Linked DNA regions of Homo sapiens. The protein of the gene in region 4 interacts with the protein of the main gene of each other region in a biochemical or structural test. Each region holds a gene or a part of one and is shown on either strand. Other genes may lie near its edges. The genes, in order: DCUN1D5, NAE1, RC3H1 and UBE2F.

The links.
Region 1: the proteins of UBE2F (region 4) and DCUN1D5 form a complex in vitro, tested with the Homo sapiens proteins (one study listed by BioGRID).
Region 2: of the proteins of UBE2F (region 4) and NAE1, one has a biochemical effect on the other in vitro, tested with the Homo sapiens proteins (one study listed by BioGRID).
Region 3: the proteins of UBE2F (region 4) and RC3H1 form a complex in vitro, tested with the Homo sapiens proteins (one study listed by BioGRID).

Annotation. Positions count from the first base shown.
Region 1 is NC_000011.10:103,061,161-103,068,197, forward strand, and holds part of DCUN1D5 (DCN1-like protein 5), read right to left. Parts: intron 5,408-7,037; coding exon 5,299-5,407; intron 5,214-5,298; coding exon 5,109-5,213; intron 3,218-5,108; coding exon 3,115-3,217; intron 1,255-3,114; coding exon 1,199-1,254; 3' UTR 1-1,198. UniProt on the Homo sapiens protein: Contributes to the neddylation of all cullins by transferring NEDD8 from N-terminally acetylated NEDD8-conjugating E2s enzyme to different cullin C-terminal domain-RBX complexes which is necessary for the activation of cullin-RING E3 ubiquitin ligases (CRLs).
Region 2 is NC_000016.10:66,827,973-66,835,491, reverse strand, and holds the start of NAE1 (NEDD8-activating enzyme E1 regulatory subunit), read left to right. Parts: upstream 1-4,515; 5' UTR 4,516-4,592; coding exon 4,593-4,645; intron 4,646-7,414; exon of another isoform or gene 7,415-7,477; coding exon of another isoform or gene 7,478-7,512; intron 7,513-7,519. UniProt on the Homo sapiens protein: Regulatory subunit of the dimeric UBA3-NAE1 E1 enzyme. E1 activates NEDD8 by first adenylating its C-terminal glycine residue with ATP, thereafter linking this residue to the side chain of the catalytic cysteine, yielding a NEDD8-UBA3 thioester and free AMP.
Region 3 is NC_000001.11:174,012,327-174,019,363, reverse strand, and holds part of RC3H1 (roquin-1), read left to right. Parts: intron 1-7,037. UniProt on the Homo sapiens protein: Post-transcriptional repressor of mRNAs containing a conserved stem loop motif, called constitutive decay element (CDE), which is often located in the 3'-UTR, as in HMGXB3, ICOS, IER3, NFKBID, NFKBIZ, PPP1R10, TNF, TNFRSF4 and in many more mRNAs.
Region 4 is NC_000002.12:238,039,996-238,043,301, reverse strand, and holds the end of UBE2F (NEDD8-conjugating enzyme UBE2F), read right to left. Parts: intron 2,015-3,306; coding exon 1,964-2,014; 3' UTR 520-1,963; downstream 1-519. UniProt on the Homo sapiens protein: Accepts the ubiquitin-like protein NEDD8 from the UBA3-NAE1 E1 complex and catalyzes its covalent attachment to other proteins. Together with the E3 ubiquitin ligase RNF7/RBX2, specifically neddylates cullin-5 (CUL5).

The DNA.
Region 1 (7,037 bases), on a different chromosome or scaffold from region 4:
AAAAATCAACCTTTACCTTAAATCCTAATAGAAACACTCCCTTATTATGGAAAAATAACCTCTTTACTTCTCTCTACTCAAACAATGACACTAGAAATGTTTCTGAAGTTGTGACTGGGCTATGAATATGAACAAAGTTTTCATATCACTGGGATACTGGATGGTTTGAAAAGGAATGTACAAACAGGCCTGCTGCTAGTACAAAAGTGCCTTTTACATGAATTAGGAAAGCCTTCCCTTTCCTCAAGACACTTGATTACCAACAGGCAGAAAATTGTGATAATTAGCAAGCTGCAATACTACCAACGTAAATGGCTCTATTGAGTTGTGCACAATTAATTATACCCAGAGTTCTCTCATGATTCCTTATTCTATTGTCTTCTTTTCCTATGTGTATCTTAATTAAATCCATATCACAGCTAACGTTCTCTTAAGGCAAAAAAAAAAAAAAAAAGTGCTTTAAACAAAATTCCCTATATAATGACAGTTAAAAATATAAATATGCTATTATCAACAATAATAATGATGATACAACTTAATAATACAACTTTTTTAGAAAACAAAACAACTGGACATAATCTTTCCAATTCTAAGCTCTCTGAGATAAGACATCTGCATAAGACCTTGGCAGCTTTTATAGAAACCCAGAGCTAAAAGTAGGAGCATTTTTCCAATACCTAGAAATGTTTATTAGCTGCATCAGCAAATCATTATCCCAGAAGTCAAGGCCAACAGTCTTCCAAATTGTGCAGAGATGACTATAATGAGCCATACCATCAGCAGACTATGTTGCCAAATATTAAGACTGTTTAAAATCTTGAAAATTCTGTAAATTCACGGTGAATTGGAACCTCAAAAATCAAAAAATTCAAATTTACAAAAATAAATACCACTCTGACACTCAAGGGACATCTTCACTTTAAGGCCTTTGTCACAAATCTGAATCTTTATTGTTCTGAAATAAATGTTATAAACATAACTCAAAACAAAAACTTCAATATTCAGTCTAAGAAGAGGTGTGGCTCAATGCCCATCACATGTAACAAGAAAAACCTCCTTTAAAAAAAGGAAAAAAAAGTACTATGAGAAGTCTTTCATATGAATGAAAATGCACCCGTTGGATTTTTTTCCCCCTCATCACATTAGCTTGTATACACGTGGGAATTGAAAGGTTTGCATTTTCTTCACATAGTTCTTGCTATGATGTCTGACGGACTTTTTGCCACTCAACAAATTCATCAAGAAGAACAGGCCCTAGAAAAAAAGAAACCATTTTTGTCAGAATTCAGTGAACTCATCTCTCCAATTATAAAACAAACTCCCCACGAGCTCTGCAATGACAGAGGAATGACCCTTCCTTTCTTTGGGTGTTCTGCTTCTAGACACCTTATTCCATTTAATGGTGCTTTCTTATTAGCCTTTTCTTTTTTGCCCTTAAAGACACAAGGAACAATGGTATCTATAGCAACTTCCTTCTCAAGGTGTTTCATGAACCCTCCAGTAACTGAGTCAATACAAATCTCTCCCTTTTTCTAAGTGTCCATAGCATTCTGGCATTTAATTATGAAACAATCTGAAAAGTGTTGAAGGTAATATTTCTATGTTGCCTCCCCAAGAAGTGTACAAGCTTGTTGAGAGGGATCAGCCATAATAGAGACTTACTTTATTCCAATAACAGGATGTAGTACAAAGCTGAACACAAAGCAAGTGCCTAATGAATATCTAATTAATGAGCTAAGTACTATTCTAAAACATATATTTTTATAACGTAGGGGAGGTCCAAACTCATTTGCTGACAGAGCCAAGTAGGCAGTTTAAATGAGCTCAGTGTTTATTTTGTTTAAATGTAGGAAAAAAATCACCGCCACAAAGAAATATGCTTGCTTTATTCTTCTTAAAACACATAATCCTCTGGTGGTCTTTTTCCATTGCTTTTGACAGACATGTTTCTCTATCGTAAGAAAAGCAGCAGAGCACATATGATAATAAATGGCAACTGAAAAACAGCCTAGGTGTTGGCATACCATGAACTGTCAAACTGAAAAGCAAGTCCAACACAGTTAACACTTGACTCCAGCCTCTGACTCCTATAAAGGAGTACTATAAAGGTACAGTTTTGTCAGACTTTTTAAATTTTTCCAACAAATCTAAATGTTGTATTTTAATACAAAATCTCCTAGTTTTAAATGCTGATACAAAATACATAAATATACACATCTACGGGCCATATACAGCCTTTGGGCTGCCAGGTTACTGCTGCTAGGTATTATTTCTTTAAAATAATACTAAATTTTATACCATCTTGTAGAGAGAGGACAAAATATATGTGGGAAGAAATAAAGTTATCCCTTCTTCTGTTATTTTATTTTTTCAGTGTCACAGAAAAAAGTGTATAATTTCAGTTTAAGTTTATAGGAATGTACCTTTCCTTGTAACCCTTCTGAACACTGAAAACACATGCAACCAACCAAAATGGTGGTTGGAACTGAAAAAAATTTATAGTTCTACAGAATTAACTTGGTTTATCTAATTAATTTATCATTATTTCAAAATCCTGTTTTATGGCATTCTAGCCTTTCCATGGAGGAGTATGGACAGATATTTTAACTTGACGGATTGAAAAATTATAACTATTTCACTATCAGTTAGCTCACAATCAATTTATAGTTTTCAGAGAGAAGTTATACTGACATTATTTGCCATATTGTTAATGGGTAGCATAATATTACAATAATGTTAAAGCTTTTTCTATTGTGGCTGATTGTTTTGCTGTTATATTTTTAAAATCATGACTGTACTTTTCTTCCATAGGCAAATGCCAGGAAAGACAGAAACAAAGCTGAATTTTAGCTTCTGGATGCAAAAATTATAATTTAAATTTAGCTAAAATGTTTGGTTGCCGAGGAACTGAAAACATTTCATTTACCAGCATAGATTTTATATAATACTGCTGAATCTAAGCTCTCTCTCTACTTCTCCCACAATCCCTCACACAATTAAATAAGTTACTATTACAAAGTTTAAAACCTCTATGCTAATACTACACAAATGCATACTCTCATTTAATATTTTTGGAAATTTTGTTTTCAAAGGAACATGTTATGTTATACTTACAAGCACCATCTTCATCATAGTTACTAAGATCAGCATGGACTGTTCTGCTGAATTCTAATACATTGTACCATTGATCTTTGTTCATAACACGATACTTTGATTGCTGCAAAAATGATTTAAATATTTGTATTTAAATATTTAAACAAACATCATTTACTCAATTTAGTAAACTAAGTTTTAACTGTTTTTGTGATTTGGTTTTTTCTAAAACATTTACTATTTTTTTAATTATTTGTGTTTCTAAGAGATTCCTCATGGGCATTTACATATTAACATAATCTATTTTTTACTTTTTTTTTCATTTTTGAGGAATAATAAGAGCACTGAGTACTAACAGTAAGGATAAAACTAACTTTTTCATATGTATATACTTGTGTTACCACCAATGAGATCAAGATATATAACATTTCCTACATCCAGTATGTTCTATTGTGCTGCTTCCTAGTAAATCATTTCTTTGCTCAAGATTTACTGTTTAGCCACATTTTGAGTTTGGCATCTTTGGAAACAAGTGAAAGAGTATAGGCTTCGATTTAAATCCCACCCTTGCCACTTAATTGAGTGATTTTGGGAAAGTTACTTAAGAATAGAAACCACCTCCTCATTTGTTAAATGGGGATAGAATTTAATTCAAAATGGTATTATAAAGATTTTTAAAAATATATGCCAAACAACCTGCACATAACAAGTGTCTGAAAATATTTAGTTCTTCTCAGCTCCCCATAGAGCTGAATATTTTTACATTCAGTTAAATTTATTTTTGCCCAAAACTACTAATAGGAAGAAAATAGATACCATCCATCAAAAATAATTTATAGGACTTACAGATTGAATCATGCGTAAAACTCATTCATGTAAGACCTTTTCATATCATTGTCTCTTTTTTTTTTTTTCTGAGACAGAGTCTCGTTCTGTCACCCAGGCTGGAGTGTAGTGGTGCAATCTCAGCTTACTGCAACCTCCACCTCCCTGGTTCAAGCAATTCTCGTGCCTCAGCCTCCCGAGTAGCTGGGACTACAGGCACAAACCACCACACCCAGCTAATTTTTTGTGTGTATTTTTAGTAGAGACGGGGATTCACCATGTTGGCCAGGCTGGTCTCGAACTCCTGGCCTCAAGTGATCTGCCTGCCTTGGCCTCCCAACGTGCTGGGATTACAGGCGTGTGCCACCACGCCCAGCTGATATCACTGTCTTGTATCACAACTTTTACTACTCTGGGAAAAGGGAAGCAGCTATAAGCAATGTGCTTTATGAGAAATTATTTCCAAAGGAAAAAGCATCTGTATTCAAGATATGGTGAGAACTATACCAATAACCCTAGAATTACAAAGGCACAAAAACAGATTTAAAAAAAAAAAACTAGACAAAGCAATGGAAAAAAAGAATAGCATCTTCTTAGAATCACTGCCTATAGTAGTTGCTATGATAAACCTTCTAAAAGAACACGTCATCATTTCAGCTTACATTTTTTTAGTAACCAGCATATTTAAGTATACTATTATAGCCATTCTCATATTTGTGGCCATAAAATATTAATAGCTTTATTCTGTTTCTTTAGATTGAGCCTAAGTAGAAAAGGAAAGTTTTATTACTAAATTGGTTCTCTTATGTACATTTCAGCTTAAGACCCTGTGTAACAAAAGAAGAAAATCAGATTTAGAAGCTTAAAGGTTTGTGTACTAGCATTAACTCTCTTATGAAAACCCCGAGAAACTAATTCTGCAAGACAAATGTCTGTGATACAATGTATTTCTTGGAGGTTTCTTTTATTTGGGGGACTGGGGGGGTAGGATTGAAAATATCTTAGGTACAAAATATATTAATAAACATGAACTTCTATCTAAAAATAGCAACTGATATGTACATATTTTAGAATTTTTTCTCTAAAGTTTTTTTAAAGCATACTATTAAAAATCTACTTGTTCCTCAAAAGTATAACTTTCAGATTAAGTTTTAAAATAATATTTTCAAAATTCGAAAAAACATACGTACCTCCAGGTACTGGTAAAATACTGAAAACAGTGGCCATGTCCTCCCAAGCAGAAGAGCTAACATAGATTTAGCAGTATCAATATCAAGGCTTCTCTGATCTTTATCCTAAAATATAAGTGAAAAAGTTTTCCTAAGTGTGGTCTCAAGATGAAAAGCTATTAAAACAACAAAACAAGAAAATTGCACCTACCCTTGCAAAATCAAAGGCATATCTGTAGATATTCTTAAATGACGAAATATCATTCAACTGTGAGCGCAAAAAGTCAAATTTGTTTTGTAACTTTTCTGTGCAGTCACACCTTAAATAAAAGAAATATCAAACAAATTACATAATCAAGAAAATCAAATAAAAGTATCACTGGGGGTTAGACGTAATGCATTAAGAAAAAAGTGAGCGCATTTATGAAGTTAATTTAGTTTTAAAATTCTGAGTCACAAATTTAGAGTAATAAATTTCTTGCCCTGCATCTACCAATGCAATAAAAAAAGAAAAAAGGGGAAAAAAGAAAACCTGGGAATCAAAGAAAGTTCACTCCAATTACTTTGCTTAAAAACAAACAAACAGCTCATTCAAAAATTCCAAATAAAATCGAAGTTAAAAAGAGATGTATTAAAACATGTTTTATCACATATACAGCTAAAAATGGCAGAGCAAATGAAACTAATCACGCCTTTGTCACACATTTCTTTAGAAAGTTCGTAGGTAACAGTTTGGTGAAAGACATTAGTCATGAGTAGTTTTAAAAGTTTAGGATATAACACAGTGCAAATTAATACATTAAGTGGTCCAGTCATAAATCAAGATCCCTATATTTTTGTGAACAAAAAGTCAAAGTCAATCAGTAGAAGCACCTAACTTCAAATAAGTTATATATGCAAAAGCATGCAAACAACAAGTCATACGTGTTATTTTTAAAGACAAGACATTAAATATAAGCAGCTAAATATATGGAAGGCTCAAAAATCTTAACTGACTTTGTCTCAGTGGGTTGATAAATTCCACTGTTTAGCAAGAAGCAAGGCAGTCAAGGCCTTTCACAATTTGGCACAAATCTCTAGTTTCATCTCCTGCCACTTCCTGATAACCTTACCATGCTCTAATTATATCACTTACCATTCCCAAATGCCACTGCCATACTTCAGCACCCATTATTTCCACTTGAAATCTCAAACATGCTGATAAAAATATTATTCATCAAGACCTAACTCACATTTTGCCACCTCTGAGAGACCATCTGACTCCCTTTAATCAAATTAATTGTGCCATCTACTGTGGTCCACAGTATTCCACTCAAAACTGAATTTTAGTTATTCAACATGCTCTCCAGCCACCTGGCATTCTCAGATTTAACTAAGACTATACTAAATCAATAATGCAAAGGCCTATAATGTGTAGTAACATAATTTCATTAATGTGTAAATATTTTGGACAATTTTCTAATATTAATTAAACCTTGCATTTCTAGAATAAGTCAAATTTGGTCATGTTATCTGTTTTATACATTGCTGGATTTTGGGGTTGTTTTGCTAGGTTCCTAAGTGAGACTAGCTTTTAAGTTTCATTCTTACTCTCCTTGCTAGTTTTTTTAACAAGATTGTAGTACATAAGACTCAGAAAATGAAAAGAGAATTGCTACTTTTCCCCCCCGTTTTTTGAAAAAGCTTATGTAACCCTGGAATTAGCATCTGTCCAAACTCAGGTGAGTATTGAGGGAAGGAAAACTTTTAACTAATAAACCAACATTTTTAATGGCCATAGGGCCATTCAGATTTTCTATTTCTTTTTGAATGTTTTGGTCCCATACTTTTCTCATAACTGATTATTTTACATATAAGTTTATTTAAATATGATTAAAATTTATAACATTTTCTAATTTGCATTAGCATTATCTTCATCCCTTTTTTGTTGTTTTTCTTGACCAATCTTAC
Region 2 (7,519 bases), on a different chromosome or scaffold from region 4:
CCACGACCACGCCAGGCAAATTTTTATATTTTTAATAGAGACAAGGTTTCACCATATTGGCCAGGCTGGTCTTGAACTCCTGACCTCATGATCTGCTCACCTCGGCCTCCCAAAGTGCTTGGATTATAGGTGTGAGCCACAGCACCCGGCCACATTCTTTAGTTTTTGTAGAGACGGGGTCTTGTTATGTTGCCCAGGCTGGTCTCTAACTCCTGGCCTCAAGTGATCCTCCTGCCTTGGCCTCCCAAAATACTGCAGGTGTGGGACTACAGGTGTGATTACAGGTGTGAGCCACCGCACCAGACTGGGGTATTTGTTTCTAACCCCTGCACCACCTCTTAATCTTTGTTACTTCACTCTTCTCCCCAAACATCTGCCCTCTGTCTGTAAAACGGGGTTAGCAGCAATATCTGTTGCATTGGGTGGTTGTGAGCTCACGAGGTGATGCATGTCAGGGGCCTGCCTGGCATCATAGTAAGTGCTCAGAAAGCCAGGGTAGGATCAAGCATGTATCAGAATCACCTGGATGATTTGTTAAAACAGTTTCCTGGGCCTCACTCTACAGTTTCTGATTCAGCAAGTATGGATAAGGTCCAAGAATTTGTGTTTCTTTTTTTTTCAGAGACAAGGTTTCGCCATGTCACCCAGCCTGGTTTCGAGCTCCTGGGCTCAAGCAATCCTCCTGCCTTAGCCTCCTAAGTGTTGGGATTACCGGAGTGAACCACCTTACCTGGCTTTCTTTTTTTTTTTTTAATACTTAATTTTTTTTAAGAGAGGAATGTCTCACTCTGTTGCCCAGGTTGGAGTGCAGTGGCGAGATCATAGCTCACTGCAACCACAAACTCCTGGGCTCAAGTGATCCTCCCACCTTAGCCTTCCAGGTAGCTAGTACTACAGGCATACACCACCATGCCTGGCTAATTTTTAATTTTTTTTTTTCTTTTTGTAGAGACAGGGTCTTGCTATGTTGCTCAGGCTAGTCTCAAACTCCTGGCCTCAAGGAATCCTCCTGCCTTGGCCTCCCAAAGTGCTGGAATTACAGTCATGAACCACTGTACCCAGCCAAGAATTTGCCTTTCTTTTTTTTTTTTTTTTTTTTTTTGAGACGGAGTCTCACTCTGTCGCCCAGGCTGGAGTGCAGTGGCGGGATCTCGGCTCACTGCAAGCTCCACCTTCCTGGTTCACGCCATTCTCCTGCCTCAGCCTCCCGAGTAGCTGGGACTAGAGGCGACCACCACTGCGCCCAGCTAATTTTTTGTATTTTTAGTAGAGACGGGGTTTCACCGTGGTCTCGATCTCCTGACCTCATGATCCACCCGCCTCTGCCTCCCAAAGTGCTGGGATTACAGGCGTAAGCCACCGCGCCTGGCCGAATTTGCCTTTCTAACAAGTTTCCAAAGTGATGTTGATGCCGCTGGTCCAGGACCACACTTTGAAAACCAATAGCTTAAATGAATTACACCATGGCTTCCTGGTCTGATATATCTGGTTTCCACCCTCCACAACAGGGAGAACTCACCAGTGGGCCCTGAATTCTTTCATGTCAGGGCCGTCAAAAGAACTGTGTCTGATCAGCCTCCTCTGCTCCAGCATAGGCACCTTTACATGGTTTTACGGGTTGAATTATTATTATTATTTTCACTTTCATCTCTACAGAAAATAATCTAAAAATTAGCCAGGTGTGGTGGTGGGTGCCTGTAGTCTCAGCTGCTCAGGAGGCTGAAGTGGGAGGATTGCTTGAACCTAGGAGGTTGTGGCTACAGTGAGCCATGATTATACCACTGCACTCCAGCTCAGGTGAAAGAATGAGATCCTGTCCCCCACTGCTGCCAAAAAATAGTAACCAGACTCCAAAAGCATAGGCAACAAAAGCAAAAATAGACAAATGGGTTTATACCAAATTAAAAAGCTTCTGCACAGCAAAGGAAATGACAGAATAAAGAGACAACCCACAGATTGAGAAAAAAATATTTACAAAATATACATTAGATCAGGGACTAATATCCAAAATGTACAAACTCAGACCGCTCAATAACAATAAAACAAATAACCCTATTAAAAATGGGCAGGGCCAGGTGCAGTGGCTCATGCCTGTAGTCCCAGTACTTTGAGGGGCTGAGGCAGGAGGACTGCTTCAACCCAGGAGTTTGAGACAAGTCTGGGCAATATAGTGTGACCCCACCTCTAAAAAAATAATGATAATATTAATACAAAGCTTCTGGGCTGAATTATGTCCTCCTCAGAAGTTACTGAAGTCCTAACCTGCCAGTACCCGTGAAGGTGATCTTATTTGGAAACAGGGTCTCTGCAAGTGTAAACCAGTTAAGATGAAGTCATCAGTGTGAGCCCTGATCCAATGTGACTTGTGTCCTTAAGAGAGGAAACACAGAGACATGAGGGGAGAATGCCATGTGATGATGGAGGCAGAGACTGAAGTGCTGTGGCTGCTAGCCAAAGATTGCCAGCAAACCCCCAGAAGCCAAGAAGAAGCGGACGGATTCTCCCCTACAGGTTTCAGAAGGAGCATAGTCCCACCCGTGCTTTGATTGTAGACTTCCAGCCTCCAGAACTGTGAGACAATAAATTTCTCTTGTTTTAAGTCACCCAGTTTGTGGTTCTTTGTTACGACATTCCTAGGAAACTGATACCCTGAGGTATCATTTTACAGACAACACCAACACAAACCTTTTCAAAATCATTTACTTCTTCACGGGCAATATGACTAGCCTTCTACCAAATTTGTGGGTGTTTCCTTTCATGAAGTCCATAGGTATGAGAAACTAAGCAGTGAACTCTCATCTGCTGCCTTTTGACCTTCCTACTTTCCCGGAGTGTATTTTATTATCCCTTATATTTTACCTGTCCACTTGGAGAAGGAAATGTGACAGCACAAACACATGATGAGCTGGGAAAGCCTCACACCTCTGTTTCCCATCAGTGTGTTCCATGGGAGCTGGGTAAGGGCAAGGGAAGGTATGGGAAGGTGTACTCTCACCCTAGTCCAGGAGACCATGCCCAGGGCAAAGTGCAATTCATCATCACTGCATCATTACCATCAAACTGTGCCATCTCTCTGGTCCCCATCCTAGGGGATTGGGGGTGGGGATCTGTGTTCATTTTCACCTTATTTCAGGCAGTTATTAACCTGAAGGTGCCTGTAGGGTCTGCGAGATAGCAGGGAAGGAGTCTTCGTCTCCCTCACAGATGGTCACCTTGTCTTCAGCACCACCACCCCCCTCCCAATTGTTCTCATGGGGTAACCTCCTTCCTTGGCCTCCCATCCCCACAGGACAGCCGTTCTCTTCCTGAAAGGAGGGTCTTTTCAGGAAGTGGAGGACTTTAAATTCCTCCTTGGATCTATGTTCACAGTCTTCAGAACCCAGCCTGTCCCAACTGTCTCTCAAACCTTCTCAACCACTCCCTATCCTTCACCTGACCAAACTTACTCTAGCACCTACAGCTTGCTATGCCTTCTTTGCTTCCTAGAGATGGCACCTGCTGTTCCTTATGCTTAAAACACCCTTCCAGCTGGGCACAGTGGATCATGCCTATAATCTCAGCACATTGGGAGGCCAAGGCGGGCAGATCGCTTGAGCCCAGGAGTTTGAGACCAGCCTGGGCCATGACGAAACCCCATCTCTACAAAAAATGTACAAAAATTAGCCAGGTGTGGTGGTGCATGCCTGTAGTCCCAGCTACTTGGGAGGCTGAGGTGAGAGGATTGCTGCCTGGGAGGTTGAAGCTGCAGTGAATTGAGATCACACCACCGAACTCCAGTCTGAGCAATAGAGAGAGACCCTGTCTCAAACAAAACAAAACAAAACAAAACAAAACACTCCTCCATCTCCAAACCACATGAAACATTCTTGGAGAGGGGGACTGGGGAGGTTCTTCTGTGCACCCCTGAGCACCCTGCTTCCCTCTATCTAGAGGAAGGCCACATTGTCTGGTAAGTGCTTGTTTGCTGTCCCTCTTCCTTCATGAGACTAAACTCTCCAAGAACAGAGCCCTGGACTTGTCTGCATCTGCAGCAGGGAGCCCCTAGCTTTGTGATTCAAAATAGGCTTGTGGGCTTTTCATGAGAGGAAGAAATGGGTGAAAAATAATGATCATCAAAATGAAAGTTATTATTCATGCAAGATTTGGGGGGAGTCTGGCCTCCTGTATTCAAAATCTCATTTAAGGTCAAAAGACACTTGGGACCCATTTATCCCCACTGCACAGGTGAGCACACTGAGGATTTGAGAGGTAAAGAGTAGATCTCACAGCCAGTTAAGTGGTCGAAATACAAGTATGCCTGATTCCAATGCCCCAGTCGCCCCCAATTACTGCATGGACAGAGGGCAAATTGGCAGGCTAGCGGGTCTGCCTTTCTGGCCGATGGGGACCAAGAGCCCCAGACCCGCTCGGGTACCAGGGCCGCTTAGGCCCCGGCGTACCGGCGACGCGTGCGCAGTGCAGTGCGGCGCCCCCTGCAGGCAGCGCGCAGGAGACGGTAGCGGCGAAGGGGCGCTCAGTGCGCCTGCGCGCTTGTGGAGCTGGTGGCGGCGCTCCGCAGGGGCTCGGCTGTTTTCCGCGCGGCAGGCGCGGCCATGGCGCAGCTGGGAAAGCTGCTCAAGGAGCAGAAGTACGACCGGCAGCTGAGGTGAGCCGAGGCTCACCGAGCCGAGGGCGGGCCGGCGGGCTTTCCAGCATTCGGGCCGGGCCTAAGGGCGCGGGCGGCGCGGTCGGGCCTTCCTCAGGCCTTCTTCCAGGCTGGGCCGGGCCGTGCGGGGCGCGGGAAGCCGGCGCTCGGAGCTCCCGCCCTGGGCCAAAGGTGCTCCGCGAGGGCTGGGACCCCTTCCCCCGCCACGCGGTGTGCAGTTCGGGGGACGGGGTCCCCAGCGCCAGCCGGGTAGCTAAGGCGGCTGCCGGCCCCGTTGCGCCCAGGCTCCTCGTTTTCCGAATGGGGAGGCCCGGGGCGCACCGCATCCCGGCCGCGAGGGCGGCACAGAGGGTTAGGTTTTGTTCTCAGCCAGCGCTGTCCAATGGAAATAAAATGCTAGTCTCATGTGAGCCGCAAATGTAATTATAAATTTTCTAGTAACCACACTAAAGGTAAAATGAAACAGATGAAATTGATTTTTAAATACAATTTAACCCAATATGTCCAAAACATTACTATTTCAACACAATATAAAAAGTTCTTGAGATATTTTACTTAAATTTTTATTTTTATTTTTATTTTTGTTTTTGTAGAAACGAGGTTTTTGCCACCTTTCCCCAAGCTGGTCATGAGTATTTTCCTTTTTAAAACTGTCTTGGAGGACCGGCACGGTGGCTCACGCCTGTAATCCCAGCACTTTGGGAGGCCGAAGCGGGCGGATCACCTGAGGTCAGGAGTTCGAGACCAGCCTGGGCAACATGGTGAAACCCTGTTTCTATTTAAAAATTCAGAAATTAGCTGGGCGTGGTGGTGCGCGCCTGTAATCCCAGTTACTCTGGAGGCTGAGGCTGGAGAATCGGTTGAATCCAGGAGGTGTAGGTTTCAGGGAGCCGAGATCGTGCCACTGCACTCCAGCCTGGGTGACAGAGCGAGACTCCGTCAAAAAAGCCCCCCCAAAACTATCGTATAAATATTGTATTTTACACTTACCAGCACATCTCAGTTAACACTAGCCTCATTGCTTGTGCTCAGTAGTACATGTGGCTAGCAGCTACCTTAATGGACAGTGCAGGCCTAAGCCATCAGGAGGGTCCTTGGGTACTTCCCCACCCTTGCCTTTTCTCCTTGCACTACCCATTCCTTATTTATTGAGCGTCTTCTGTGTCTTGAGGCTGTGGAGATAACAAAGCTGCTCAGCTTTCCTCCTTCCTGGAGCCTCTGAGACAACAGAAGTTATATGTCCCCAAGGACTGGAGCTTCTGTTTGCGCCACCAGCCTAGTGCTGTAGTAGAGGCTTTAGGCACTTAGTTCTGAGAGTACCCTTGAAAGCAACCATTTCCTGTGCTTTACAGTTGGAGAAACAGAGTCTTGGAGAAGTTAGGTAATTTGCCCAGAGTTCCCCATATCTTTGAGCCAGGATGTAAACTAAGGCTCTTCTGGCTTTTTCGGAGGTACTCAGTTACATCCTGCTTCCAAGCTTTTCGGAGAAGAAACAGGGTAACAGTCCTTATAACCAACTTAGGTTTTCTTGTAAATTCTTGGAGTTCTTGTGTTTCTAATGCAGGTATAACTGTACATGACAGAGCTGAGAAGATAGTTGAGGTTACTAAGCAACTCTAACAAAAGAGGGTTTTTGCTGAGGGCATTCCATTTAAGTCCCAAACTTTACTTTCATAGTGAGAACTGGTTTTGAAGTGTCAAAGGGAAGCAGTTAGAAGCAAAATGCAGCAGTCAATAAGCCCCTCCTTACTTCACGTTAGTTGGGCCAGCAAGATAGTAGAGAGGACTGATTCATTTGGCCTATTCTTGAAACATGTTACTTAGAGACACACCAGGATTCTTTTTTTTTTTTTTTTCAGGGACAAGGTCTCACTTTGTGACCCAGGCTAGAGTGCAGTGGCTAGAGTGCAGTGGCAAGAACACTGCTCACTGCAGCCTCAACTTCCTGGGCTCTAACGATCCTCCTGCCTCAGCCTCTTGAGTAGCTGGGACTACAGGCATGTGCCACCATGCTTAGCTAACTGTTTTAGAGATGGGGGTTTGCCCAGGCTGGTCTCGTACCTCTGCACTCAAGTGATCCTCCTGCCTCAGCCTCCCAAAGTGCTAGGATTACAGGCATGAGCCACAGTGCCTGGCCTCAGTATTCTTTTTGTTTTATTTTTGAGGTGGGTCTCAGTATGTTACCCAGGCTGGAGTGCAGTGGCTGTTCGCAGGTATGATTATTGGCACACCACAGCCTTGATCTCCTGGGCTGGAGTGATCCTCCTGCCTCAGTCTCCCAAGCAGCTGGGACTACAGGCACACACACTATCTCACCCTGCTTGAGATGCACCAGTATTTTTTTTTTTTTTTTTTTGAGACGGAGTCTCACTGTGTTGCGCAGGCTGGAGTGCAGTGGCGCGGTCTTGGCTCACTGCAATCTCCGCCTCCTGCGTTCATGCGATTCTCATGCCTCAGCCTCCCTAGTAGCTGGGATTATAGGTGCGTGCCACTGTGCCTGGTTAATTTTTGTATTTTTAGTAGAGACGGGGTTTCACTATGTTGGCCAGCCTGGTCTCAAACTCCTGACCTCAGGTGATCTGCCTGCCTCCGCCTCCCAAAGTGCTGGGATTACAGGCGTGAGCCACTGCGCCCAGCCAAGATGCACCAGTATTCTTAAATTTACTCTCCAACTATCTAAGCATCCATCAACCATATATGTCAGGTGTCTTCTACGTGCCATACTTTGATGGAGAAAACAGGCGTTTACGGTCCATCTGGTTCTTCTAGGCGATTCCTCCATACATTTGACAGCTGTCTGGGCCCTTATGGAGCATACAGTGGAGTGGAAAGATGGATGCTCAGCAAACAAAAACAAATGAAGCCAGGTACAGT
Region 3 (7,037 bases), on a different chromosome or scaffold from region 4:
ATGTGTCACAGTTAAACTTTGAAGCATCTTCTGTGTTGACAGATTCCTTTTTTTGCCTGTGAACTTACCCTATTATCATTATTTGTATCCTGTCAGATATCTACTTGTAAGACCAAGAAAGTATTTGTTCATGTGAATCACAAAAGAAACACTTAAATTTTTGTTTTTAGCATATCTGAATGCTATAAAATATAAAAACTCATACTGTTTACATAGGACAGATTTATCATACTGCTGTAATTGTTTTCATGGTTAATTTGTTACATAGGCAATTACTAAATTGTGCCTTTGAAATACTTTATAAATTTTTTTAAATAATTAAAGATATTCAATGATGTTAAAGTTGGGTCAGCTAATATTTGAAGTTCTTAATTTATAATTTTTTTTCTTTAAGCCATAGATAATTTAGAATTCTGCAGTATTTTTCATCTCCAGATCTTAGGGCTTGAAATGGATTCTGATGGGTCTAATCAGTCCACTCTTGCATATATCTTGAAAATGGTCAGCATCCAACAAAGTGAAGAATAAACTGATAAATGATCCCTGTTTGGTGAACACCTCAGATCAGGATGTTCCTTGGCAGGGTATTCTGACCTGGTTTAGCTTTGGCCCCGTCTGTGCTCAGGGTTCAGGTATTCTGCAGGATTGGGTTCAGAGGGATTAAAATTCTCAGATTGGCCTGTATCAAAACAGTCACAGATTTTGGTCAGCCTTTTCCCAGAACCGTCTCCAAGATTTTTTCTTTTGTGTAATTCTGGAATCTAGGCTGGATTTGGACTAGCTTTAGAGGTTATGATAAAAGATTAATTTTGTCAGGCATTTATACAAAGGAGGTTTTCTTACTACAGAGTTTCTTAAGGTAGATTCCTTCTATTTTTGAAGTGTGACATTTACCAATCTGAAGTAATGTTGCCCTACATCCCCCAGACACTTAACTTTAGCATATTTATTTCTGTCCATTTTTGGTCAGGATTGTGCCTGTTTACTTATATAATATTCTTGTTTACTTTTTGTTTATTAGATACTTCTTATTAGTTTATATTGTTTTCCTGATTGAGGCTTGGGGAAAGAATTTTCCTCAAATTTAAAGTCACCTTACTTATTTGCAGATGTATGTCAGAGCAATATTCTTTTGACAGTTATCAAGCATTTTAGCAATGCTGTATGTATATATTATGAATGAATGACAGAGTCACTCATGGTCTGTCACCCAGGCTGGAGTGCAGTGGCATTATCATAGCTCACTTCAGCCTCAAACTCCTTGGTTTAAGTGTTATTCCCGCCTTACCTGGCTACTTTTTTTAATTTTTATTATTTTTATAGAGATAGCATTTTGCTGTGTTGCCCAGGGTGGTCTCAAACTCCTGGGAGCAAGGTGATCCTCCCACTTCTGCCTCCCAAAGTGCTGAGATTACAGGCATAACAATGTTTTAAACTGACACTGGTATACCTTCACTGATTATTACTGTGCACATGTGGTAATAATTTAACTTATAAGTGCATTTTATCTAAAAAATTTCCAAGATCTAAATAGCATTTGAACATGGTAGCAGTTTTTTTTTTTTTTTTTTTTTTTTTTTGAGCAAGAAAAGAGTTCTAAAGGGGTCAGTTTTATCTACAGATTAACATAATTTTTTTTATTGAGGTTAAGTCACATAACATTAACCATTTTAAAGTAAACAGTTTAGGTGGCACTTTATACATTCACAATGTTGTTCAACCACCAGCTCTAATTCCAGAATGTGTTCATTACCCCAAAAGGAAACACTGTACCCATTAAGCAGTTACTCTGTATTCCCCTCTTCCCTAATCCCTAGCAAACGCCATTCTGCTTTCTGTCTCTAATTTGAGCCAACATCGAGGAAGAGTACTCTGTACAATTGAAATTGCAGAAAAAACTTTGGGATGTGATTGTTAGGAATAAAAAACCACCTAATTCTTTGCATGCTTCTCTAAGTACAGTAGACATGCTGCCAGGGACTCTTTATGGAAGAAAAGTTGAGACTCATAGAAGTTTGCAGTTTTGTTTTGATCACCCCAGAGGGTTTTGCTCAAACTCTTAGACTCATTTGTATTTCTTCATTGGGTTATAAGAACTAAAATTTAATGTTCTATACAAATGTGAACAACTAATACTTGGTCTCCTATCTAGAACTTGTTTGCCTTTTAGGTTTTCTTAATGTATAGAAGAAACTAGGAATATTCACAAAGGATTTATTTGAAGTTACACTGGGAAACGATTTTTAGAATTTGAAGCTCTTTGATCCCTGTGAATCTAACTTTATGACTATTTTATTCAGCTAATCTTTGAGAATATTTAGAGTTTTGATTTGCGTGGCACTCTGCTTTTAATCCCTTGTTGAATAAGTGTTAGAAACCTTGATCTTGGCCCTATACCTGATCACCTCTAAAAACATGAACAGTGTTACAAAGGCAGTTGTTTAGTAAGCTTTTTTGGATTGTTTTAATTGGCTGACTGAGGGAGACAAAATTAGTTTTTTTTTTTCTTTCTAGAATAAAGGGTAATAAACTTGGACTTTAGAGTTACTGCTAAGATTGACATTTCCATTTGGGGCTTTAGAAATATATTGTTATCTTAAATTCAAAATGGTACTTTATCTAATTGAATTGAAATCTTAAAATTTATGAGAAACAAAAGTCACTTTATGTTCTTAGTAAATATTTCTAATGGGGTTATAGGAGATCTAAGTACAAAAAAAATTTAAAATTTTGTTATTAATCTCCCCTCCTTAAGGAAAATTTTATTAATATACATAATTATAATTTAGTTATAAGAACAACTTAAGTTGAGTACAGTGGCTCAAGCCTGTAATCCTAGCACTTTAGGAGGCCAAGGCAGGAGGATCTCATGAAGCCAGGAGTTCCAGACCAGCCTGGGCAATAGAGTGAAACCCCACCTCAAAAAAAAAAAAAAAAAAAAGGAAACTTAAAAAATGATAAGGAAAAGGATTATGTCAGAATATTTAGAACTCTGCAGTAAAATTTCTGGTTTTCTGTAATTTTTTTCAGGAAAATGTCAACTTTTTGTAAATACATGTTTCTGTGTTTTTATATATGCCTCATTAATTTTTTAGACTAACATTTAGTGGAAAGCTAATGTACTCAATTAATACATTTAAATTATAAAAATAACTTTTTTTTTGAGACGGAGTCTTGCTCTGTCACCCAGGCTGGAGTGCAATGGCATGATCTCGGCTCACTACAACCTCTGCCTCCTGGGTTCAAGCAATTCTTGTGTCTCAGCCTCCCAAGTAGCTGGGATCACAGACTCATGCCACCATGCCCGGCCAAATTTTGTATTTTCAGTAGAGATGGGATTTCACCACGTTAGCCAGGCTGGTCTTGAACTCCTGATCTCAGGTGATCTACCTGCCACGGCCTTCCAGAGTGCTGGGATTACAGACATGAGCCACTGCACCCGGCCGAACTTTTATCTTGAAGTAGATAGTGTCAACAAATACAAAAATAAAAATAATGTCTTTAAATGAGGTGATGTTTAGAGCTATATCCATGAAAAATATGGGATAGGCTAGGAGGCGGTGACTCATACCTATAATCCCACCACTTTGGGAGGCCGAGGTGGCAGGATCACTTGAGGCCAAGAGTTCCAGACCAGCCTGGCTAACATAGTGAGACCCCATCTGTATTAAAACATATATATATATATATAAAATATGAGGCCAGGTGCAGTGGCTCACGCCTGTAATCCCAGAACTTCGGGAGGCTGAGGCGGGTAGGTCACAAGGTCAGGAGTCGAAGACCAGCCTGGCCAAGATGGTGAAACCCCATCTCTACTAAAAATACAAAAAAATTAGCCGGGCATGGTGGCAGGCACCTGTAATCCCAGCAACTCAGGAGGCTGAGGCAGAGAATTGCTTGAACCCAGGAGGCGGAGGAGGTTGCAGTGAGCTGAAATCATGCCACTGCACTCCAGCCTGGGCGACAGAGCGAGACTTGTCTCAAAAAAAAAAAAAGTGTAGTGGAAAACTTTTGAATGAAACAGAATCACTAAATTCTTAGCTTTATTATAGAACAGTATTTAATTTGTCCAGGTCTCAGTTTAGATTAAGAAGTAGGCCAAAAAAAAAAAAAAGGCCTATAATTATCAGAAAAATTAATGAACTAAATCATCTGCACTAACATATTGGTTTAGAAGTTCTCTTGCTTTGTACATAATTCAAGGAATTTGATTATCTATTTTCTCGTCCCACAGCAGATTAAAAGGTGCAAATTAGATGTTGGAGTAGAGCCATATAGGTAGGATGGAGGGCCAGCTGGGTGGCAGGAAAAAAGTCACATTAGCCTGAGGCTGTTTAAAATAGGGACAGCAGTTACCTATACAACACCTCATTAGACTCTGAGTATATCATTAACTGTTATATTGTGCTATATATAAAGTATTGCTCCTGATGGAAAATTCATTGTGGGAAAATTATGTTTGTAATTTTGGGAATCATAAACATATATACAGTAGAGTGGTGTATATTAGAATATAGACCTCGCTAAAAAAAATAGAACATACACTTTGGAGTCCAGTATATCTAGGTTCTCATCTTCTATGACTTAAGCATTATAATTCCTCATCTCTAAAAACAGAAATGGTAATACTTTTATCTAAAGGTTGTTTGGAAATGTAAATAATAATATCTTTAGTATAGTACCTGACACCTTTAATGAATGTTATTTTCCTCCTTAAATTCTGTTTAACAAAAATTAGAAAGATATTCATCCAGAATATTTTTGATCAAGTTCTACTGTAAAATGTTAATATAGAAGCTACATATAAAACCTTATATAGTTTAGGGTTAACTGTATGTGTACTTTTGGGAGTGGTAGTCAGAAATGAAGTAATTCTTCATATGCCATTCTCATTTTCTTCCCACATCAGTCTATTTATATGGGCCTATGCTGTTCAATACTGGCCACTAACTATATGTGGCTATGTAAATTTGAGTTTTTTGAAAGATTTTTTTTTTTAGAACAGTTTTGGATTTACAGAAAAATTGCTCAAAAAAATACACAGTTCCCATTTATACTGTCCCCCACGGTTTCCTCTGTTAGTATCTTGCATTAGTGTGGTGTGTTGGTTATCACTGAGGAACCAGTGTTGATACATTATTAACTAAAGTCCATAGTTCACATTAGGATTCACCCTTTGTGTTGGACAGTTCTATGGGTTTTGCCAAATGCATAACATTATACATCCACTATTCTAGAATCGTGCAGAATGGTTTCATTGACCTAAAAATGTCCCATGTTCCACTTACTCATCTCTGCCTCATCCCTCTGAACCTCTGGCTACCACTGATCTTTTTACAGTCATAGTTTTACCTTTCCAGAATGTCATGTGGTTGGAATCATAGTATATAGTCCTTTCAGACTGGCATCTTCACTTAACAATATGCATTTAGGTCTCTTCGTCAGTATCTTCTTCTTTTGTTTTTGTTTAAAATAGAGATTGGTCTTGAACTCCTGGGCTCAGGCAGTGCTCCTGCCTTGGCCTCCCAAAAGTGCTGGGATTATAGGCGTGAGCCACTGTGCCTGGCCCTCTTCATGTCTTTTCATGGCTTCACAGTTTATTTATTTTACTGCTTAATAATATTCCATTGTGGCTGAGCATGGTGGCTCACGCCTGTAATCCCAGCACTTTGGGAGGCCAAGGATCACGAGGTCAGGCGATCAAGACCATACTGGCCAACATGGTGAAACCCTGTCTCTACTAAAAATACAAAAATTAGCCACACGTGGTGGTGTGAACCTATAGTCCCAGCTGCTTGGGAGGCTGAGGCAGGAGAATCGCTTGAACCCAGGCGGCGGAGGTTGCAGTGAGCTGAGATCGCGCCACTACACTCCAGCCTGGCGACAGAGTGAGACCGTGTCTCAAAAAATATATATATATAATAATAATAATATTCCATTGTATGGATACATTTAAATTTTATTTAAAATTTAATTCCTCCGTCTCACCAGCACATTTCAAGGGCTCAATAGCCACATGTACCTAGTGGCTACCATATTGGAAAGCACTGATATATATGATTCCCCCAAGGTTCAATTCTCCACTTCCATTCACTCTCATGGAGAACTTTCCTGTTTATATGATCTCAGTTTTTCCTCAAGCCTACATTTTCAATGCATTATCTATTTTGTTTTGTTGCTTGTACTATCAGCAACCCTCAATTGGTTATTTAAAATCCTTTACTCCCCCAAAGAACCATTATTTTCAAATGTTGTCCATTATAGTATGGTTTCCTAGGTTTTCCATCACAGCATCATCTCTTTTTAGTCTGCTCTTCTTTTTTTTAATTTTCTAAAATTTTATTTTGTTTTTGATCCTTCTTTTTTTAAAGAATTTATGTTGCAGCATTCTATAATAGTCTGATCCTTTTTGTCCTTAAACTCTGGAATCATCTTTTTGTTTTTTATTTTCCTCTAAACCTTTTGAATATTTAGCAGAGGTGTGCAGATCTCAGCACTAATAAATGGCAGAGTTGGTATTAGAATCTAGATCTCCTTATTCTAGTTCTTTCTTTTCTTTTCTTTTCTTTTTTTTTTTTTGAGACAGAGTCTCACTCTTGTCGCCCAGGCTGGAGTGCAGTCGCGTGATCTTGGCTCACTGCAAGCTCTGCCTCCTGGGTCCACGCCATTCTCCTGCCTCAGCCTCCCGAGTAGCTGGGACTACAGGCGCCCGCCACCACACCCGGCTAATTTTTTTGTAGTTTTAGTAGAGACAGTGTTTCATCATGTTAGCCAGGATGGTCTCGATCTCCTGACCTCATGATCCGCCTGCCCCGGCCTCCCAAAGTGCTGGGATTACAGGTGTGAGCCACTGTGCCCGGCTCTAGTTCTTTCTTGGGATCACCACTATTTGGGGCTACTTTTAGAAGTTATTTTGAAGAGGGTATTGGAGACTGATTATGTATTATGTGATTTAAAATATCTTTATAAGTTAAATCTATAGAAGCTATAGCTATAGATTTCATAAACATATTATTTATAATTCTTTAAACAATTAG
Region 4 (3,306 bases):
TACTGTGCAGATACTTTGATGTCAGAATAACTGATATTACCACTTTCAGTGTGGTCCAGAGGGCACACTGTCTTTCATGTACACTGCATAAACGTTTCCACTGGACAGCAGGCGTTTCTCCCACAGAAGCGCTCTTCTGAAAAGTCCTGCATCAACACCTGCACCACCAGCTGGGGAACTCCAGGGAGCCCGAACAACTACTATGGGATGTGCCCTGACTTGGGCCTGGGACTGGCACCAAGCAGAGAACCTCATTTCCTGGGTCAGAGGGGGCAGGAATTAGCTGCTGGCCTCCTGCCCTGCCTAGAGAGGAAGCCTAGTGCTCAGCTGGCAAGTTCCTCTGACACTAGGCAGAGGAAAAGTGTGAAGCTGCAGTACCTCCCTCTCCCAGGCCCTGAGAGGTGGGGATTAATGTGTCTCCTGGACAAGCCCTGAGCTCCTGAGATGCCATCATTCTCTTTAACCAATCTCACCCTTCCTGCTCTGTGTGGCCTGTTAGCCAGGGGCCACCCTCAAGTCTAATGGGTGCAAAGAGGAAGCAAGGCCTACATTCCTCACCTGCTGGGTCTCCGTGACAGACTGATCTCACAATCAGAGATTCTATAAATTAAGAAAAACAAACTAAACCCAGTAGATGGCAGATGGGGGAATCCAGAGGTCTAAGGAAGCTGGCAGTTAAGTTTGAGAGTGTTAGGCAGGCAGCAAATGAAACTAGACAGACATTTATTTTGTGTTTGATTTCACTGGTTCAAATGTCTACATGCTGGAGTAAATCCACTTGCCTCTCTTCAGGGCTTTTCCTCTGCAGTATATTAACCTGGCCGAGGATGGCATATGCCACTGTTGACTCCTGGTCCTCCAAGGCCTAGGAGGCTCACCCCACCGGCAGGGCCTGGAGCCATAGCAAACTCAGAAGAAGGCCACAGGTACAGTCTCAGTGACATCAGACATTGGGCTGATTCCTGAGGCATCGCTCCTGTCTCCCAGGACAGCAGGGTCTGGCTCTCTGATAAGTAGCTACCAGGTCACAATCACATGACCACTGCAAAAGCATCAACCCCAGCTGGTCCAGGCTCCAGCCAGTTTCCTCTGGGCAGCATGTTAGAATGGGCTCCCTGCCTTTTTGTTTTGATCATCCAAATCTAGCTTCAAAGGGCTCCAAAATGTGCTCACCACATCCGGACCCGAAAGCAAGAGCTGATTTTTAAGAGTGAGATTCTCATTGCATTTGGACAAAATGAATAATGTGCCTTTCATATTTTCTTTGTATTTCTCTTCAATAGTTGCTTGACCCAACATCTTTCTGTCTGCTCTATACAATGAAAATACAAACTAAATGAGAATAGAAAAAATAATTAAAGCATTGAATTGTACAAATTACAAATCTGTTCCAAAATATACTTACATTAAATAAAATACGCATTTCAATAAGAGATCTACAGTGAATGACTCTATGCATTCTGGGAGGCTTCACAACATCTAGGCAGGGCCAACATTCGTGAAAGAAGCTAAGAGATTTTGCATCCAATCACAGTTTGTAGCGGGTATCTTATTGCCAATCTGCGAGTTACACTGAACACATCATTAGCATCGCTTGTGCAGAAAACCAATTTTGTTTGGGAAAAGGGAAAGCAAGCTCTGGCCTCAATTTTGAGTTCATTACAACTTCTTAAGAATTTCACCAACAGCCTATACAGTACAAGTTCAAAAAAGTAAACATGTTAAGGTAAGCAGACAACTCTTCAGAAGCCCAAACACATTTTCTTGCTGTATTTATGTTGAATTCTCCATCTACAATGAGCAGTCATGAAGATGGTCTTCTTCAGGGCAACATGGTCACAGGACTGGGGCAATCCAGGGGACTGAGAGGGAGCATGAGGACGGGAGAGGGGGCTACCTCTTGCTGTTTCATGTTAGAGACAAACTGTAACACAGTCCATGGGCCTGCAATCGTCCCCTTTTATCATCTGGCATAACGTTTGATGTAGTCATCCACTTTATTCCGGAAGTCCTCCTGTGGAGTAACAGCATTGGGGACAGAAAGAAGAACAGGAGGAGTGAGTGAGTGAGTGAAGCAGCGCTTCAGGGACAAGTCAGATCCACCAGCACCAAGGTCCCCTGTGGTCGCCAAGGTGGTAGAAGGACTGGGACCTTGCGGAGTCTGAGTGCCATTTCGCCACGACCTGGGTGCCTACTGCACGCAAGACACAGTGCTGGGTATGTTGAGGGGGGAGCACGTGGAAGGCCTGAGTGGAAGGGACCCTAAGGGGGTACCTATCCCTTCTCATTTTCCAGATGGGGAAAGTGGAGCCCAGAAAAGTGTGGTCGAGGTCACAAAGCCAAGACTCCTTTGGCCACAATGGATGTGAGCCACAGCTGCTGCTCTCAGGAAGACCCTTGTTTCTGGATTTGTCTTCCTAGAATGATTTCCCTGGATGCTGCTACCTACTTAAAATGTGCCTGCTCTTCACAGCCCATGTACAGGCCCCCATCTCTTCTGGGCAGGATGACCACCCTGCCCAGAAGAGAGCTGGGTGTGCCACAGAGCTCCATCCTCATGCATTGAAATGAAGGTGGACAGTGACCAAAGGCGGTGTGGACCTAGGAATCACCCCAGGCCAGTATGGGTGGAACAATCTTCTCGGATCTGGGCCACTGTCAGGTTTGTCCCTGGATCTGGTCTCCCCAAGGTTAGGAGTAAAATCCCATGGGACTGTATGAGCCGTAAGAATGACTTGGAGCTCTTAACCCTCTCACTCCTACAACACAGCTGCTGGGTCTCAGATGTCCCTGCAGGATCACACTGCTTCGGTCCCATCAATGCCATGCAGCCCCCACTGCCCAGGGAACACAGCACAGTTACCATAGTTCTTAGTGGGCATGAGCTCCATTTCCTTAGCTAAGCCTCAGTCCTCCTGTCTAAGCCTCAGTCTAACCTGTTTGCTGATTCCACTGCATAATCCCGACACCTGGCAATGTGCAGGGTATAACCTGGCACTCGATGTATACCTCGCTGCTGCCGCGATGCCCTCTTGCAGGGAGATCCTGCCTGGAGCATGGTCCTGGCCAGCTGGGCACCAGGTGCCTGCCCTCCTGCCACACTTTTAGTTAGCACAGCGACCCTTTCCAGGGCGGGCAAGTTCCCAATTTGAAGCTATGGATACGGTCCCATGACTTGCTCTGGTCTCAGGGTGAGAAAGTGGAGTGCTCTGAGTCTACCCAGGTGCCTCTGCCCTGCCAACCGCCCTATTTGTCTACAGGATGGCGTTTGGAGCCTCCCACATGGGCCTTTACCCCGCAACAAAG